2 separate regions of the Homo sapiens genome follow, and region 2 is linked to region 1. The links come from fine-mapping of genetic effects on gene expression. Tissue or cell type: lung. Region 1 holds a variant in brackets; the other region holds the start of a gene. All regions are shown on one strand. Distances are from middle to middle.

What was found. PIP is the estimated chance that this variant, and not a neighbour inherited with it, causes the effect.
Region 2: it holds the start of CD82, and the variant in region 1 is fine-mapped to the expression of CD82 in lung (TOPMed, PIP 0.93).

Annotation. Positions count from the first base shown.
Region 1 is chr11:44,614,205-44,624,672 of GRCh38, forward strand. CD82 (CD82 molecule) reads left to right here. Exons shown (of 10, transcript NM_002231.4): 7 at 1,068-1,169; 8 at 3,958-4,161; 9 at 4,436-4,519; 10 at 4,845-6,154. The coding sequence ends at 4,922. Among named protein-coding and RNA genes, the nearest start is that of CD82-AS1, 14 kb to the left of the region's middle. RefSeq lists an enhancer at 2,213-2,562. The variant A/G (reference allele first, on the strand shown) is at 5,336.
Region 2 is chr11:44,560,624-44,570,171 of GRCh38, forward strand. It overlaps CD82 (CD82 molecule), which reads left to right and starts at 5,040. Exons shown (of 10, transcript NM_002231.4): 1 at 5,040-5,113. RefSeq lists enhancers at 1,212-1,713, 1,714-2,213, 5,053-5,553, 6,059-6,128, 8,435-8,484 and 1 more and a silencer at 4,539-5,138.

The sequences.
Region 1 (10,468 bases):
TGATACCGAAGTTCCAGGTCCCTCAGTCTTGGGGCCCCCTCCAGGCATCTACCCTGCTGTCTTGGGGGCCCTGTTTGGAGAGGCTGCACTCTGGTCCTTGGAAGAAGGAAACTGAGCTGGGCTTTCCTCCCTGTCCCTCCTTCTCCCTGAAGCTGCCCTGTGGGAGGTGTAAGGATTCACCAAGAAGTTGCATGGGTCTGGCTCTGGTGCCTGGCAGACCATGGTGGTTAGGTGTGCATTCAGCATTCACGTACCCCACACAACTATTCTGTGCCAGGCTTGGCGCTAGCCACGGGGGACCCTGTAGTGAGCGTGCCAGATGTGGTCCCTGCCCCCACGGAGCTGATGTGCTAGTGGAGAGAGATGATAAGCCCTGAAAACCAACAAGCATGTAACGTCAGTGCTCTAAAGAGAAATACAGCATGCTTTCCCTTGTGGGATAAGGGAGGCCGGGGAGGGGTGGTTGATTGGTTGGGGGAGAGGGGATGGGGAAGGGCTGATATTTTGTAGAGTGGTCTGGTAAGGCCTTTCTGAGGAGGTGACATTGGAGCAGAGCCCTGAAGGAAGCAGAGGGTGAGCCATGTTAATGTCTAGGGGAAGAGCATTCCAGGCGGTGGGAACAGCAGGTGCAAAGGCCCCAAGGCAGGAGTGTGCCTGGCACAAAGACAGCACAGAAATCTAGTCAGTTGAAGCAGAGGGAGGAAGAACAGAGGACAGAAGGCCTGGGGAGGCAGACAAGTGGTGTAGGACCTCCTAGGCTGTTATGGGGACAATGACGGTGGGAACTGCCCTGGAGGTGGGAGGCCCCTACGGGGTTTTCAGCAGTGACATGAGAATATTGATGTTTACAGGGCCAGGCTGCTGCCAAGCGCAGAAGAGATAGTGGGGCAGGAGTGGTTGGCACTGCCTGCATCGGGCACCCTGGGAGCGCCAGGAAAGTGGCTGGAGCCATGAGCGTGTCCCAGGGTTGCTGAGGGGAACGGGGGGAGGCAGTTTAAGTAGGGGTGACCACAGGTGGGCACGGGTTTCAGGAAATCTGACCCTGACCTTTGTCCTCCCCCCTGCAGCTGAAGCAGGAGATGGGCGGCATCGTGACTGAGCTCATTCGAGACTACAACAGCAGTCGCGAGGACAGCCTGCAGGATGCCTGGGACTACGTGCAGGCTCAGGTGAGGTGGGGCGGGGCTGCAGGAGGCTCTCTGGCCTGGGTGTCCCTGCATTTGGGGCTCTGTGCACCCACATGTCTGGGACTGGCATCTGCAGTGCTCGTGTGTGCCTGACAGTTTGTAGGAGAGTGTGCTTCTATGGGGGCAGGGCACCCCAGTTAGCACCACAACTCCCTGCTCAGGGGGCCCAGAGACTCAGAGGCAGCTTCACAGCTCTGTGCTCCCATTTGTGGCCAGAGAGCATGGGGGCAGTTGTCAGCCCTCTTATCTCAAGCTACACTGGGGAGCGTTGGGAGCTCCACTCTGGGTTTTAGGAAACTGGGAGCCAAGGCTGATATGCTGAGAAGTCCCAGTGAAGGCTGCCTCTGGGGAAGGGCACTAGCTGGGGAGGTGTTGGGGAGCCTTCTAGGGCAAAAGGAGTATTTTAGCCAAATCTTGATACTGGTTTCGCCAGTATGTGCACATACGTAAAAATGCACCAAGCTGAATGTGTGCCCATTAGTTCATGTGTATTATACCTCCATTAAAGTGAGAGAGATGGATGGATGGATGGGTGGACAGATGGACGGACGGACTGACCGACTGACCAACAGATAGACTGACCAGGTTCCCAGCCTGTCTCAATAGTGATCCAATGACCACCTGGCTCTCCTTTCTTGTGGTCCCGGATGCTGCATGTGCCCTTGGCTGGGACCTGACATCTCTGATCTGCAATCCTGTGAGGGCGCAGGACACAGTGGTCACTTAGGGCCTGTTGACACCTCAGGGGAGGGATGTGGAGTACAAAGGGCATGGGCAGCAGGAGAAAGCCTGACTCAGCGGCACCAGGAGAGTTTGCAGAGAGGACACTCCATCTAGGTGACATGGACATGGCCATTTTCTCAGTGGAGGAAGGGGAGAGCGATGTTTTCTGGCCCTGACCGAGGAGATCAGGTGTGGGGGTTGTGGCAGCTGGAAGGCTTGGTGCACACAAGGAAATGTTTTGGTCGCATATGTAGTTTGACCCACAATTGCTGAGACTTTGCTAATTTTAGCAAAGTCTGGATGTCACCAGTGACATAAACCAGTGCCACCTGACAAGGGACCTGGGAGGAGAAGTGGGTCCCTTGGGAGGTGGTAAGCATCCTACCCTGGAAAGTCATTGGCTGGTTCTAGATGATTCTGATGCTGTCAGATGCTGCTTAGGCCGGTGGTAAGTCAGACTCCCAAGGCCTGGAGTGCTAACACTGCCACAGCCGCTAGACCTTTGCTGAGCCTGCTTCCTCATCTATACAATGGGGCTACTGACCCATGCCGTGTGAGATACATTGTTAAAGCCTGAAGCACTTAGGCAGCATTTATTATGTGGTATGTTGGTGGTGATGTTTTAGTCACCATGCACATCCATGGAGACACAGGCGGAGGTGGCGTGTGCTGCTGGGGACCAGGTACAGCCGGAGTCAGGCCAAGGGGTTGCTTGGAAGGAGGCTCTGTCGTAGACGGGCCAAGGAGACCTGCCTCATTTTGCTCTGGTGTAGGATGGCCTGTGGGTGCCCCCAGCCTTGCAGACCTGTGCACCCCTCAGAGGTGCCAGCCTTTTCTTGGAGAGAGGAGGCAGCCCGGCTGCTGGAACAAGCACCTGTAAACCTGGATTAGAAACTGCCTGGAGCTGAGCATTTCTGAGTGTGCCTGGCACGCCCCCTGCTGGCCACTGGCTACTGGTCAGGCGACACCCCTCGGAGCTAGGAAGGAAGCGGTCCAGGAACTGACCCCTGCTGTGACCGTGGCTATCCCATTGAATCCTCCCAGGAACCCCCAGCATTGCGGGGATTCACACACAGAGACCTCCTTTAGCACACAGAGCCCGGAAAGGCTTTCTTCTCTCTAGAACTAGAGCATTTTCTCCTTTAAAATGGCAGAATTGACCAGCTAGCCAAGGTGGCTCACACCTGTAATCCCAGCACTTTGGGAGGCCGAGGCGGGCGGATCACTTGAGGTCAGGAGGTCAAGACCAGCCTGGCCAACATGGTGAAACCCCGTCTCTACTAAAAATACAAACATTAGCCGGGCGTGATGGCGAGTGCCTGTAATCCCAGCTACTCAGGAGGCTGAAGCAGGAGAATCGTTTGAACCCTGGAGGTGGAGGTTGCAGTGAGCCAAGATCACGCTGCTGCACTCCAGCCTGGGTGACTGAGCAAGACTCTGTCTCAGAAAAAAAAAAAAAAAAAAAAAAGGCGGAATTGACCCCGTCTCCTTTTTCACTTTTCACTTTTTTTCCTTTTCACCAGGAAGCTCAGAGGCAAATCTCAACTCCTGCACTAAAGTTGAACGGCCTTTCCTAAGCTTATTGTGCTCCCCACACCTATGCTTGGTACTTTGCCTGCCTCATCCCATTTAGTCCTTGTGATAGCCCTGTGAGTTGGGGATTTTAATTATCCCCATTTACAGATGAGGAAACTGAGGCTAGTTCCTTGATGGAGGTTGCTCAGCTGGTAGGCGGCAGGGCTGGGATTGTAACCCAGTAGCCTGACTTTAAACCCTGCACTGTGAACTGTCTGCCGTCCATTCTCCTTGTGCCCTGCACACCTGCGCTCCTTCAACTTGAACTTCCTTCCTACTCTGCTTTGTATTTTTGCTGGTCCTGGTTTTGATTTTTCTGCTGTACTTGTAGTTTATGATGGTTCGGCTGGGACCAGGGGCCTGGAAGTGGCATATCTCAGTCTCTGTCCTGGGGAGGTCCTCCCTCTGCCAGGAGGGCAGCCTGCCTAGGGTGAGCCGTGAGCACAAGCAGTCTGTCCCCTGCCTTGCCCAGGTGAAGTGCTGCGGCTGGGTCAGCTTCTACAACTGGACAGACAACGCTGAGCTCATGAATCGCCCTGAGGTCACCTACCCCTGTTCCTGCGAAGTCAAGGGGGAAGAGGACAACAGCCTTTCTGTGAGGAAGGGCTTCTGCGAGGCCCCCGGCAACAGGACCCAGAGTGGCAACCACCCTGAGGACTGGCCTGTGTACCAGGAGGTGTGCGGGGGGCTGCGGATCGGGGGCGGGGCTCCGAGGGCGTTGGGGGCCATCTGGGCTACTGCTCAGCAATTCCTTCCTGCATTTAGTTCCTTCCCTTAATTCATCTGTCATTTGTACCTTCATCTACTTCTTTGTTAATGTATTTATTCAAGGAACAGGCAGAGCCCTCTGTAGGGGCTTCCGGGCTGGGACTGGGGGGCTCTCGGTGGTTCTGCATGGCGGGGTGGGATGGTGCAGAGCGGGGTGATGTGACCGCATTCTGCCCTTGCAGGGCTGCATGGAGAAGGTGCAGGCGTGGCTGCAGGAGAACCTGGGCATCATCCTCGGCGTGGGCGTGGGTGTGGCCATCATCGAGGTCTGAGCCCCCTCCCCCATCCCTTCTCCATCCCAGGTCCTCCTGGGTTGTCTCTGTTCTGCTGATCTCCTTGGGGAGGTGGTGGCCAAGGGGGCCAGCACCCCATCAGCTTCCAGAGGCCCTCTGGTCTGAGCACTGTCTGGCTGTGTGACCTCAGACAAGGCACTGCCCCGCTCTGGGCCTCCCTCTGCTGCCTGCATCACAGGGTGGTTGTGAGGCTCAAGTTGAGGATCCACTTAATCCCCATGTAAACCTGGATGGTGAGGCTGGGGCGTCTGAGGCCGGGACACCCAGCCTCCCTCTGACTCTCCGCCTCTCCCCACAGCTCCTGGGGATGGTCCTGTCCATCTGCTTGTGCCGGCACGTCCATTCCGAAGACTACAGCAAGGTCCCCAAGTACTGAGGCAGCTGCTATCCCCATCTCCCTGCCTGGCCCCCAACCTCAGGGCTCCCAGGGGTCTCCCTGGCTCCCTCCTCCAGGCCTGCCTCCCACTTCACTGCGAAGACCCTCTTGCCCATCCTGACTGAAAGTAGGGGGCTTTCTGGGGCCTAGCGATCTCTCCTGGCCTATCCGCTGCCAGCCTTGAGCCCTGGCTGTTCTGTGGTTCCTCTGCTCACCGCCCATCAGGGTTCTCTTAGCAACTCAGAGAAAAATGCTCCCCACAGCGTCCCTGGCGCAGGTGGGCTGGACTTCTACCTGCCCTCAAGGGTGTGTATATTGTATAGGGGCAACTGTATGAAAAATTGGGGAGGAGGGGGCCGGGCGCGGTGGCTCACGCCTGTAATCCCAGCACTTTGGGAGGCCGAGGCGGGTGG[A/G]TCACGAGGTCAGGAGATCGAGACCATCCTGGCTAACATGGTGAAACCCCGTCTCTACTAAAAATACAAAAAAAATTTAGCCGGGCGCGGTGGCGGGCACCTGTAGTCCCAGCTACTTGGGAGGCTGAGGCAGGAGAATGGTGTGAACCCGGGAGCGGAGGTTGCAGTGAGCTGAGATCGTGCTACTGCACTCCAGCCTGGGGGACAGAAAGAGACTCCGTCTCAAAAAAAAAAAAAAAAAAAAAAAAAATTGGGGAGGGAAGGGCGTTAGATAAGGCACTCTGGGCTGTCAGGAGACTGCCTACTGGGTGGGTCAACTTATTTCCCACTATGACATTTATATCTTTATTTTTCACAATTATATTGAAGGCAGTGGGAGAGGGGAGAGGGTGGGTTTTACCTGATATTAAGGGGTGGCACCCCTTCCCCAGGCCTGATGCAGGTCCATCTAGACAGCTCAGATTAGCCTAGGCCATGCCCTAGGGACACGGCCTAGGGGAGCTGGGCTGGAGGGGGTCTGCCTGGGTAAGGGGATCTGGCTTGGCCCTGAGCTGCTTAGGGACAGGTGAGTCCTTGGGGGCATGGCACAGAGCTGGTCCTGTATTCTCCAGGGTCCGGAGCTGGCCAGGGGCGGGGAGGAGGAGGATGGCTTCTCCTGGGAGAAGGTGGGCTGGCCTTTCTTGGCAAGCGGTCCTCTGGCCCCTGGGGAGTGGGGTGGGTGAGGCTGTGCCTTGTAGGGGGAGAGGGGAGGGGGCTTTGTGTGCACCATTCTGTAAAACACACTCAAGATTCTAAGACTATTAAAGAGGATTTATAACAGTCTAGTCTGGAATGGTAGGGATGCTGCTTCCTGGGGCAGGGGAGGACCCAGGGCAGAGGGTGTGAGCAGAGTGGCTGGGTCTGCTGGAGACTGCTGGACCCCTCACTGCTCTGCCCTCCCCGCAGGCATCTGCTTCTGCAGCCTGAACCTTAGGACCGTGATGGGCCAGGCTCTGATGGGCCTGCCTGCATGCCGGGGTGCCTGGAGTTTGATTTGGTGCTAAGAGAGGTATAGATTGTACCTCTCAATTCCTGCTTCTGAAACTAGGGTATGGGTGCCCCCAGAAGCTGCACAAAAGTGGGCTGGTGATGGGGGACAGGGAAGCCACAGGATAAACTTGGCATCGCTTTCTAGAGCATCCGTTTCTGCAAAGATTTGTGGAAGGAAACATTTTCATACTAAAGAAATGTGATGGAGTAAGATGTGCAGAATTCAGGGGACTTTTTAAGATGAAATGTGAGACTTTGGGAGGCTGAGGCAGGTGGATCACTTGAGGTCAGGAGTTCGAGTCCAACCTGGCCAACATGGTGAAACCCCATCTCTCCAAAAAATACAGAAATTAGCCGAGTGTGGTGGTGCACGCCTGTAATGCCAGCTACTCAGGAGGCTGAGAAAGGAGAATTGCTTGAACCCGGGGGATGGAGGTTGCAGTGAGCCAAGATTGTGCCACTGCACTTCAGCCTGGGCAACAGAGCGAGAATCTGTCAAAAAAGAAGAAAGGAAGAAAAAGAAAACGACAGAGAGAGAGAGAGAAAAAGAAAAAGAAGCTTGCTCTTACTTGTGCACGGCTCTGACGACTGAGCCCCAGCATGCCCCTTGCCCGGCGTCATGAAGTCCAGAGGGCACTTGCCCCACCTTCTCTCATTTCTGGAGCCAGTGGGGAGGGGAACTCTTGCCTCCCTGCAGTGGGGCCAGGCGGGGCGGCGGCTAGAGTGGTGTTTCAGCAGGGACCACCAGGCGGCGCTGCAGCCTCAGCCTAGGAGCCCGGCAGAGCCCAAAGGTTCCGTGGTTACTCCCAGTTTCGCCAACGCGGGGCCTGCCAGCGTCCCACTCCAGTGGAAGCACTTGTGAAAATGCAGATTCCAAGGCTCAAGGATTCTGGCGCTGCAGATCTAGGGTGGGGACAAGGAATCTGCCTATTTGCACCCCTTTGCGTTGATTCCGGAAGATTTTCAGACCTGGAGTAATGTCTGTCCCAAGCCACGTGATGACCTCTCAGCGAATGTGGCAGCTGAGGAGGTGTCAGCGGTGGGGTCGGCTGTGGGTCCCTCTGTGGCCTTGGTCGCCTCCCTCTGGGATGGGGGCAGGAGAGGAAAATGTCGATGGTTCCACCTGGCCTGACTTCCCTGGCCCCCCACAGCTTCCACCCTCAGGAAGGGTAGCAGAGAGCTGTTGGGTGTCTTTTCATAAATGCTTTCTCACTGGGAGCAAGGGGACCTGAGTTTGAGTCCAGCTGCATCTCCATCTTCCTGTGCGACACGGGGCCTGGCAGGCTGAGGGTGGGCTCAAAGCTGTTTGCAAAATAGAGGACTGAGAAAACGTCAGAAGTTAGCGAAGGGGTGGGCTGCTTCCTCTGACACGTCCATCCTGCCCAGAGCTCACAGCTGGAAGGGGCCAGAGCCAGGATTTGAACCCCACGTATCTGACTTCAAAGACCATCCTCCTGGCTCCACTGGCTCCTGCCCTTCCAGATTTCCCAGAACAGCCCCAGGACGTGTGTAGTGTGAGGCTCTGACCCTCGCTTTTGTGAAATCTGGTCACTGTGAGCTCTGAGCCTGCTGGGTTCCTCATTTCAACCTCCTGGGGAGCACCCAGTTTCAGCAACCCACTTACTCCCAGCCTGTGAGGTTTTGGGAGGGAGGGAACATAGACCCATGTCTAACACTCAGAATCGTCCCTGCAGCCACTAATCTGTCCCATGCCCATCTGGGGCTTCCACACCTTCCAGCTGCCCTCCCTGGGCCCTCTGTGGGCTGCCATCTCTCCTGCCAAGGGCCCTGACAGGCCCAAAGGACTGGCACATGGGTACCATGTGGAGGAGAGTACAAGGGTGCTCCTTGGCAGTGCCCACCCACAGCTCCCTGGGGCAGCCAGGAAGAATGGCTGGAGCAAAGGGTTGCTCTTTGGGCTCCCGTGGGAGGTTAGAGACAGTGCCTAGGATGTGTTCAGGGAGCTGGACTTTGGGGGGCACTGATTGGCATGGCCACTGACCAATAGGTATGGAAGTCAGGCCTGAGCTGGAATGGGATCCTTACGTATGGATTGGCGGGAGGTGCAGGAGCTCTGAGAGATTGAGCTGGGGGGGAATTTTCAACTGGTGTGGAAATATTTCTCCATTTTATTCATAATAACTGGTATGGCTGGCTGGGTGAGTACTGGTGAATGGCAGCCTGATACATGTGCACATACATGCATGCACTCTCTCACACGCACACACTCGAGGCCCTGAAGGCCCCTGAGGGCTCAGTCCATTCCCAGCTGGGAGGAACCCTAGCTCTTCTTCCCTGAGACTAAGCCATGGGTGGCCCGTAGTGAACAGGGAAAGCCAAGTGTCTTCCTGCCTGGCCTTCCCGGGCCTACACTGCAGAGCCCCCTCTGCCGCTGATCACCATCCTGTCTCCTAGCAGAGCTGCCTCCAGCCTCTGCCCCAGATGATCTTCCAGGTGAGCAGGTCCCCCAGGCTGAGAGCAGCCGGGTGGAGGGGCACACTGGTGACGCTGGAGCATCTAGCCAACAGGCATCTCCTGGGCCAGCGCTCCCATCGCCTTTCTCCCCTGCAGAAGGACAGAGACCCAGGTTGCTACGCTGCCTCGGGGCAAATGTCTGGCTGTTCTCTGGGGTCTTTAGAGGCTGTAGGCTAAGGTTTATTCATTTATTCATTCATTCATCCCATGAATACTTAATGGCACAGACTATTTGTGAAGCACAGTTCTAGGATCTTAGGAACACAGCAGTGAACACACACAAACCCCCTGCCCACATGGCACCTGCATTCTGATGAGTGTAGAGACTCTTGCACACAACTGATGCACCAGGACACACGTGCACACACAGCACACGCATGCACACAGCACACCCTGCCACACGTACACAGGTACGTACCAGCACACACTGCCGACTGCTGACAGCACAGTCTGAGCCAAGTGCTGCTGTGGGATCCCTGGGGCCCATCCAAGGCCCCTTCCTGTGGAAGGAAGTAGAATGAACAGCGCGTCGAACAAACAGGAAAGTAGGAGGAAGTGCTCATCGCCCCTGCCACAGTGCAGGAATCAGCCATTGCCCTGGCAATCCCCTTCCCAACTGAAATCAAATAGAATCAGAGCAGCTGCCACTGGACGTGACAGGCTGTGCAACTTCACCTCTCTTAGTCTTATCGGGAAAATGGGGACTCTCATTCCTCACTCCCAGTGCTGTTGTGGGAGCCAAATGCGGTCACGTACACAGTGAGCTCATTCCCCAAGCAGCCCATTCCAGGACTGGCCCCAGCTTCAAGGGGAGGTTTCCCATCCTCTGGGGGATACCTTCCCTGAGTAGGAATGAGGCCCACGGGAGGACTTTGGGCCTTGGTGCCTCCGGGGCAGGGATGGCTGATTGGCCCAAGGGGCTGGGGCTGGGGCAGGTAAGACCTGTACTCAGCCTCTTGCCTAGTGGGAAGGTGAGCAGGTAGGAGGGCCATTAGAGGACATCTGAGCTGTGAGCACCCCGGCCCCCAGCTGTCCCATCTGACATCATTTCCCCAGCACCTGCCTTCTGAGCAAGGGGAATGTCAGGCCCAGAGCCAAGTGCCTCTCCCCAAGTGACCTCAGATGCTTTAAGCAGTAGCCCCTGGGATAGGAGTGGGCTTCCTGCAGGATGCTGGGGGCAGAGGGGCGGCCAGCCAGAACAGCTGGGAGTGCAGAGGGGCTGTGTGGAGGTGGGGAGTGGAAGGAGAGAGCTGGAGAGTCTCCAGCAGCCTCTTGGAGGACTGAGTGGGCGGGAAGGGATGTTAGTGGCAGCTGATAGGAGTGGAGGGGTCCATCCTCTGCCCTTGCATCACACACCTGGGTGAGCCCAGCTTGGGGCTTCCAGGGTGACAGGGGCCCTGTGATCCCAGCACCCAATCCTCTTGGTCCTGGTTCATAGAGGACTCAGGCGCTTGGGGTGGTGTCTGAGTTCTTTCCATGGGGAAGCTGTCGAGGAACCCACTTGGTGGGTCAGTGGGGGTCTGGTAAAATGGAAGGAGAGAGGCCTGTATTAGTCCATTTTCACCCTGCTGATAAAGACATACCCAAGACTGGGCAATTTACAAAAGAAAGGGTTTTAATGGACTCACA
Region 2 (9,548 bases), 54 kb before region 1:
ACCCCCTGGTTAAGAAAGAGACTATGTACCCTGCTCTTGAACCAGGGCCTTGGTGACTGCTTCTACTAATAGGATGCAAAGGAAGTGATCCTATATGACTTCTAAGGCTAGGTCACAAAATGCCATGCACTTCTAAGTGAGTCTTTGTTCTTCAAAACCGGCAGCCAAATTATGAAGAAGCTCAAGCAACCTGTGGAGCAGCCTCATGGAGAGGACCAAAGGCCTCCACAGCTCTGGCTGACCTCCCAGCTGGCAGCAAGTGCCAACTTGCTAGGTGTGTGAGTACACCATCTTGAAAATGGATCCCCAACCTCCAATTGAACCACCTGACATTGCGTAGAGCAGAGATAAGCCGTTGCTGCTGAGCCCACCCCAAACTGCAGATTTATGGGCAAAATAAATGAGTGGGATGGTTTGTTACATAACAGTAGGAAACAGATACCCGCACTCATTCTCTTTACCTTCCTCCACCAGAGATGTGCAAAAGTCTTGGGGCCTTAACCTAGGCCCAGACACTAACAGGGAACTGGCCCCCATGTTCTTGCCTACAAGTTCTTTGAAGTCTCCTGCTCAGCTGTTCATCTTCCACCTTTGGGGTGGGGGAATCTTCTGAGAGCCTGGCAATCCTATAGCCATACCTCTCTGAGGTCTTGCCACACCACCGTCTTCCCCATCTCCAAGTTGGCCATGGATATCTTCTCTCAAGGCTTTCTAGGGTGGTTCTTCTCACCCCTTTTCCCACCTCCAGAACTCCTGGCTCCACCTCTAGAATGGACTAGAGGTAGAGTCTCACTAGAAGTGTCTGCGCTTTCTGCCTGGCAAAATGCCCAAGGTGAGTCATGACAAAGCTTGCCTTCTGCTGGAAGAGAGGGGATAGGGACAATGCTGAGGGAGCCAACCCAATGTGATATTTCAGTGAATGACTCTGCTATGGTTTGAATGTATTGGAAACTGAATCCCCAAATTCATATGTTGATGGTATTTGGGGGTAGGGCCTTTGGGAGGATTAGATAAGGTCATCAGGATGGGGCCCTCATGATGAGGACTGGTAGCTTTATAATAGGATGAAGAGAGACCTGCGGTGGCATGCCCTTGCCCTCTCACCATGTGATGAGTCAGTAAGAAGGCTTTCACCAGATGTAGCCTCTCAACCTTGGAATTCCCAGGCTGCAGAACTATACAAAATAAAATTCTTTTATCGATTACCCAGCCTATGGTATTGTGTTATAGCAACAGAAAATGGACTAAGTTAGACTCAGATGCACATCTACTCAACAACTGTCCCTTAAGCTTCCAGGCATGTGCTAGAAGCTGGGGAGACAAGGCCAAATGGCAATGTCACCATAGACCTGGACAAGAGGGCACCTGTGGCCACCCAGAGCCCACACCTGACCTTGATCATGCTTTGGGTGTTTAAAAACCTAGACTGCCTATCCAGCCCAAGCCAGTTTTTTTGTTTTGTTTTGTTTTGTTTTGTTTTGTTTTGTTTTGTTTTTTGAGACAGGGTCTTGCTCTGTTGCCCAGCTGGAGTGCAGTGGTGCAATCTCAGCTTACCGCAACCTCCGCCTCCCTGGCTCAAGCGATCCTCCCACCTCAGCCTCCCGAGTAGCTGGGACCACAGGCACACGCCACCACACCCAGCTAATTTTTGTAGTTTTTGTAGAGACAGGGTTTCATCCTGTTGCCCAGGCTGGTCTTGAGCCCCTGAGCTCTTTAATCCTCCTGCCTCAGCCTCCCAAAGGGCTGGGATTTCAGGTGTGAGCCACTGTGCTCAGCCCCCCAGCCAGTTTTAAGGTTTACAAAGCTGCCTGCCCAGGTCCATCCTCCTGAGGGTACATCCTGTCCCTGGAATGTGCATTCATAGAGAGGTGACGAAGAGGTGGCTGTAGGCAAGGCGTGTGGGCAAAGTTTGGGTGTGTGGGCTGGAGTATCCACATGCCTGAGTCCTAGGCCACTTGTGACACAAGACAGAGATGGAGTGTGAAGAGAAGTGGAGTGGGTGGGCTGAGGGCTAGGGCCAGGCTATCCTCCCGCACTGCCATGTTCTTGCATAAAATTCTAAAGAGTCCAAGAATGCTAAATTTGAACATGGTCTTCCTGGTCATTAGAAAGAACATTTGTCAAGGCAGGAGAATACACATTTTATTTCACAGTCAGTTAAATGTTTAGATACAAGGTATCTGGTCCTTGATTTGCACTCTTAACTTGGGCTCTCCATGTTCGGGCAGGTCAGCATAACAGGACCAGTGCCCAGGCCCTGCACTCCTACAGGGAGACACTCTTCTGTGGGACTCAGACAATGACAGGGAGTATGGCAGAGATTCTAGAAGCTGCCTGAAGACTGCTCTCAATGTCACCACAGCTGCCTCTATCTCTAATCAGGAGTGGCAGGGCAGCAAGGGATAGCAGATGGGACTAATATGAGAGAATGTCTTCATGGGGGGAGGGGACAGTGAGGGGATCCAGCTGTTTTGCCAATGGCCAGTTCCCATCTGTCTGCTGGAGCCCTATTAACTTCAGTAGGGATGGTACTAGGTTCAAGAGGCTGAAGGAGAGACCAGAGCCAGCAACTGGGACATGGGGTTTTATTGGGAAACTTACACACAGGGACGGCCGGTGGCAGTGGGCTGGACAGGAGAACTGTACAGTCCCATGGCAGGCTGGGCAGGAGAGCCACAACCGCTTACAAAAAGCATGCAGTTTATACATCACTCTCACTTAGCACCCTCCCCCTAACAACCCCCACCTGATAACCTTCATTTGGCCCCAAACAAAGAGCTTTGAACCCCTGTACACCCTGCATTCCACAGGATGGGCCGGGGTTCAAATGTTCCTCACAGATAAGGAATGAATCTCCAGGTTGGTCATTCCCGGATTCCTTAGCTCAAAACTCCAAACACACATTGGGGTGCATCTGCCATACAGGACCATTCTCAGGGTATGCTTAAGTCAAGTTATTGCTGTCAGGAGCATCTGCCATACACCATCACAAACACCCCCAGCTCGGAGGGAGCGGGGTGTGGAGTAGGGTGGAATAGGAGGAATTTTATGCCCATTTTGCATGGGCTGGGTAGGGTAGGGATCTGAAACCCAGCCCAAGACAGAATGGCACAGTGGTTCTCAAAGTGTGGTCCCCGGACCAGCATCCACATCATCTAGGAGCTTGTTAGGATCTTAACCACTTGCAGGATAGAGGGTGTCTCTCTGCGGGTATGACACACTGCTGGGTTTAAAGGATTCTCCAGCCTCACTTTTCTGACTTGGTGTGGGAATGCTATGAAGGAGACTTTTTGCTGAAAAGAGAACATTTTCTGAGCATGTACGGCATTCAAGCGGTGGGCCAAATACTTTATGAATGCTGTCACATGTAATCTTCAACAGCTACCATCAAGATCGGTATGATTGTTATGGCTCATTTTATTATTATTCCCTGTTTAAGGGCTCATCCCAGAGGTTAAGTATCTTGCCTTGTCCTGGGTTTAAAACGCAACCAGGAAGCTACCTAGGTCTGTGTGATTCTCAGACCACCCTGACTTCTTTACAGTTTGCTCAACAGTGGTTCATGCTTGAATGTGATTCAGAATCACCTGGAGGCCTTATTAAAACCAATTGTCCCACAGTTTTCCATTCAGTAAGTTGGGATGGGGCTTCAAAATACGCACTCCTAACAAGTTCCCAGATGATGTTGCTCCTGGTTCAAGGACCACGCTGTGAGAACTACAGTGCTGGGCTGGGATCCAGCTCCCGCCCTTACTCCACTCGTACAAAGCGCTCATAATCATACCCTCCCACAACGGTGTGTTGTGAGAGGACATTGTGATAATGGAAGTGAAAGAGCTTTGTCAGCTGCACAGGTGAATGCCCCTGGTCATTAACCAGGTAATCTGCCTGAGGCTAGTCCTCTGGAGCCTGGGAGGGCAGAGGGCTGGGACGCAGGGTGGGCACCGCAGCCACCTAGAGAGCTCTTGCAGCCCACCTCAATTTTGGGCCACTTTTTCTTCAGGGAGAAAGCCAGCTTTGAGGGCTTAGGCCCACAGCCCCTCCTGCCACTATTCTCATCAACCCACACCTCCTCCCTCACCTCAGGCAGCTGCTGGGCACTGCCCCAGCACTGGTTGTTCTGGGCTACTTCCCCAGGGGCCAGTCCAGGCAAGCTGGGGCAGCTCAAGCCTGTGACTCAGGACCTGAGGCTGGATCCCGCTCACGCCCGCCTCCATGAGATTCAGAGCCCTCGACTTCCCTTCTCTGAGCCTTAAACTGCGCATTAGTAAAATAGGCGCAACGAGAGTACCCATGAGTTGTGGGAATTCAAGGGCTAGAACTGTATTCAGCGCTTGGCATAGAGCCTGGCCCCTGGCAAGGATTCAATCAATGGTAGTCAGTATTTTCAAAAAGTTCCTGGGCCCAGGCCGCCTCCTGATAGAGGCCCCGACTTAGGACACAAACCGCTCCCACGCCGTTCCCCGGCGGCACCCGGATACACCCGCCCTGGAATGCCAGCGTGGGGGCCCCAGGGCTACCCGCCCGAGATGAGAGGGGCAGGGCAGGGCAGGATTAGGAAGGCGCTGAGCCCAGGCTGGTGCGGGGAGGGGCGTGGCCTCACCCTACTAGGGCCGGGGGATGGGGTGGGCTCGAAGGAGAAAGTGAAGGAGGCGGGGGCGCTGGGAGGGCCCGGGAGGAGACCGGGAGGACGAGGTAGGCGGGAGCTGGGCGGGACCGTTAGGCAGCGCCGTGAGTGGACAGGGCTGGAGCGGGGCGGGCTTAATCCCCAGTGTAACCTGGGGGCGGGGCTGCCGGGATAGAGGAGAGACTCCGTAGCGGGGCGGGGCCTCAGCTCCAGCTGGGCCCGGGGGCGAGGCTGGTTGGGGTACGGCCATAGTGGGCGGGGCCTGGCCGGCGGGAGCGCACCGCCTTCCCAAAGGGCTCGGGGGCGGGGCCGGCGGAGGGGGCGTGTCTTCTGGGGGCGGGGCCTGCCGAGTCCGCGGCGTTCCCCGGCTGCAGCCGGGAGGGGGCCGAGGAGTGACTGAGCCCCGGGCTGTGCAGTCCGACGCCGACTGAGGCACGAGCGGGTGACGCTGGGCCTGCAGCGCGGAGCAGAAAGCAGAACCCGCAGGTGAGCAAGGGGGCAGCGGGCCGGGGTAGCCTGCCGGACAACCATAGGCAAAGTTAGTTTTAGCCCCCGCTTCTGCGGTCCGGCTCGGACAACTTTCCTCGGAACTAGTGACAGGTCGGGGCAGCTGGTGGGTGAAAAGGAGCTTTAGCCACCAGTCCTGAACCCCCAGTTCTCACACTCGGCCGTGCACAGCTGCGTGATCCTGGGTCCGTCCCTCTACCTGGCTCTGGACCTCCCGGGTTCCAGCAGGAGGAAGTGAACCAGGTGAATTCCACGCTCCCGTTGCCCTTTCTCACTTAAAACGCCGGAAGGTGAGAGCTGGCAGGTGAGAGCAGGCTGCAGGTCGCCACAGGTGTTCCCATCGCGTTGCCCTCTGCAGTTTCTCTCCCTGCAAAATGGGACTGAGAGAAGCGAATTGCTTTAAAGAGTGCACTGTTTCCTCGGTTGGGGCTCGAACCCACCAACCCTGGGGAAGAGGAGGCCAAAGCAGGGAGGTTCCATTTCCCGCCTCACCTGCTTCCCACCAATTCTAACAGTTCAACTGAGCCGGACCCCCTAAGACTTCAAGTTGGAAACTCAGTGGGGCTTTTCCAGGTGAGCTGGCCTGAGCAGGAGGTTGGAAACTGGGGAACAGTTCTTACACTGGTGAGTGGGGAAGAGAAGGGAAAACCCCACCAATCCTTGGGCCCAGGGTCAAGCCCAGGGCCCCAGGGGCCCTTGAAGCATACCCGGGGTTAATTTCTTGGCTGACGGGTTCTGTTCCTGGAGGTGGTGGGTGCTCTGTGCTGGGCCCCAGTAGCGGGGCAGCATAGTTCTGTGGTCAAGGCTTGGGCTTTGGGATCAAACTGATTTGGATTCCATTCCCCCTCCAAACTTCAGTTTCCTCACCTGTAAAATGGGGATAATGACAATATCCAATAGCAGGAGCAAGCACTAAATAGAATAATGTGTATACACTACTTAGCAAGGTGCCAGGAAACCAGTGAGACCTCCCTCTGTGACAGCTGCTTTGATGCGGGTGGGCAGGTGATGGGCTTGCTTCCTATGGGGAATGAGCCTTTTTTTTTTCTTGGAGAGATGGGGTTGGCTACAGCCCCTCCTGACCTTGTGAAAGCCAGAAATTGCCACCTGCCACCAACATCACTCTATTTGAGGGATGAGGACTGTGTCATCTGGAACAAAGAGTGGCTGAGTTTTCTGTAATGTTGCTTGAGGTTGGTAAGTGTTGAGTTAAATAAGTCTAAAAATGTTTACTGAGCACCTACTATATGCTAGAGAGAGCTAGAGGATACAGAGGTGAACTAGCCAGGCCTGAGTTGCTGACAATGAGGGCTCCCCCATCCCTACCATGTCCCTGTAGAGAGGATCAGTCACACCCAGGGCTTATAACCAGATGAGATTTCATGGGTCTGTTCTGCCCTGGTGGCTGGAATCCAGCTATACCATTGCACACTTGGCTTGGGATGGGGGCGAGGGGCAATGTGGGCACCCGATATCTAAGCAGGGTTGGACACTGAAGGACGCTGAAGGTGCTGCATTATATTGGCTCCCTGCATCTTCTGGGAGATAAGCTGTACAGTATGGAACAAACTGGAAAGTGCTGTGGGACAGAGACGGACTGGCGGCTGCGCTGTGTGCAGGAGACTGTGTGTGTATGTAGGGCAGGGGGAGGTGTTCAGAAGAGTGAGACACTTGAGAAGCCAGGGCAGGGGGTGGGGGTAAGGAGGCTTCCTGGAGGGGGTGAGACTTGAATAGGACTTTCTCTCTGGGCTCCTGGTCCTGGTTTGGCTTGGATCAACATGGGACCACAGTCTCTTCAAGCACTGAAGTGGCATAAATTGGAGTTTGGTATGGTGGGGAGGGAGAGGGTCTGGTAGGTGGTGCCTGAGGTGGGGAGGAGGAGACGTTCATTTCAACAGAGCCTACCTAGTGAGCCTTAATGGAAAGCCCTCCCCACCACCACCCCCACTTCCTGCTCGATGAATGACAAGCGACCACATAAGGCCTGCACCCTCAGGTTGCTTACCATCCGGGAAGGGGCTTACACAAGAATACCAGGGACTCTGATGGAAGATAAATGAAAAAAGGATTAGAGGGATCTTCAGGGCCTTACAGACTGGGAAGATTTCGGCAGCCAGAATGAAGATAGTGTCTTGAGGAGAGGAAAATGCCTAGGCAGAGGCAGGGAGGTCAACCTGTCCTGAGAATTCTCGAGAAACCTCTAGGTTGCTCATTCTGGCTGAAGTTTGGGAACGTGTGGGGATATGCAGTGGGAATAGTAGGTGGGATCAGCTTACGGAGGGCCTTGAATGACAGGATAAGAACTTTGGATCTGATTTGCAGAAAGTGGGAGCCACTGAAGGTTTCTGAGGAGAGGAGTGACACAACAGAGCAGCACTTTAGGAAAGTCAGTCTGTACCAGATGTGCTGGGGTGGAGGATCCAGCGGTCAAGGGATAATGAACCAATGGCTGCAGTGACTGGGAAGAAGGGGTCTGGGTGGCTTTGGGGATGTCTGCAACTGGGAGTGAAGGAAGAGACACCAGCCACAGGGAGAGCAAAGGCACCATTGGAGGGGTGGGAGGGGACTGTTCCAGCACATTTGCACTTCTTTCTCCTCCCTATCCTGTCTGGTACATAGCAGGGTCTCAGGAAGGTGGCTGGATTGGGTGAGTGGCGGGGTTGCTGGGAGGGTGATGAATGCTACAGAGGGGTTTGCCCATGAAGGGGAGGCATCTGGGCCGAAAGGTGGGAGCCTGTGCCAGCCAGCAGTAAGTTTGGGGGTCGGGGGCGGGATGGTTAGAAGAAGTGCCTGCTGATCCCTCCCTCCCATCCCAGCCCAGGGAGGATAGGGGTGAGAGGTCAGCCATGTGCTATCTCTGGCAGTGGGTGAGCAGTCAGGGCACAAGTTTCCCACAGTAGGGGGACTGGGGCAGGATTTTGGCTTCCCTGGGCTCCTCTGAAGTTTCCGCTATGTGGGGGCGGCCCCCTCTGTCTTGAGGCCTCACGCTTTAGAGCCACAGCCTGGAAGCTCCCACCGGCCATCCCCTTCCACCCTGGGGACCCAAACCTGTTCCCCTAAGGACCAGACAGTCCTCCCTCAACCCATGGCTGAGCAGCCCCAAGTTCTGAGTGTTGTTTCAGATTCGGAGCATCTGGGGCCAGCTGGCACCCCTGATTCTGGCTTGACCTTGGCCTTGGCCTTCTGCTCCAAACCGTTATACCCACTTCCTCTGCCCCATGGGAAGCTCACAGGGGGCGGTTATGACTTAATCAAGAACATCAAACGGCCAGGAGCTGGCTCTGTGAGAGGTGGGAAGGGAGGGAAGAGCCTGGACTGTTTGGCCTGGGCCCCTCTGTGGGACAGGACCCGTTTAATCTCAGCAGGAACTGCCCTACCCACCCGCTTCCCCTCCACTAAGCCGGGGTCTGAGGAGCTGGGAGGGGAAGCCCAGAGGTAAACATGGAGTGAGTGGTGTGGGATGTGTTGCTCCCCTCGCCCCTGATGCTGCCCTAAGAAGAGGCAGACAACCACAGACCCGGGGCCTCTGCAACAGGCCCAGCTGGTGTCTCTCGGAGGCTGGCTGGTTCCTGACTCACCCCCGGGCTTCCCCTTCCACTGTGGTTTTCCTGTCAGCAGCTGATTCACTGTGCTGACATGGACAGGCAGCTGATGGAGGAAAGAGACCTGTGTTCTGGTCCTTGGAGTTGGCTGCTGCTCTGCTGTGTGTATGTTGTGTGACCTTAGATAAGTTCCTTCTCTCTGGGATTCCTTCCCTGACTTGCTGATGCCCCATTCTTTCCTTGGCTCTCGGGGAGTTCTGGGACCTGGGATCTATCCTTTGCAAAGTAGGGCATGTCTGTGAACACCCACCCATACTCAGGCATGCGCACACACACAAATACAACCCCAACACAGAGGAGCTGGGCAGCTCCCCTCAAAGAGCACTTGATCCTACCTCCCTATTTTTACCTTGTTTCCCCCACCTGAAGCACCTTTATCTTCTTTCTGCCTGTTAACAGATTAGGGAGATGATGGTACAGCATGGCGGTAAAGCACTGGACTTTAGAGTTGAGATCTCGGCCCTGCCAATTTCTGGCTACGTGACTCTTTCTGAGCCTCAGTTTTTGAACCTGCAAATGGGGATAATAATGGTCATGACTTCATAGGTCATGAGGAGAAGACAAAAAAGTGCACATGAAATGCTTAGTATTGTTATACCTAGCACATAGTAAATGCTCAATAAAGGAGAGCCATTGTTGTTTGCTGTATCTGGTTGGTCTTTCAAGGCTGGTGCCAGGCTCCTTCTCAGGCCCCCAGGGACACTCCCAGAACACCTTCCTTCTGCACAGGGCCTCTGTGCCTCTCCAATATGTGTGTGCCCCAAGACGCCAGTCATGTCTGGCTATGTGGGGCTCTCTGGCTCTTCCTGGGG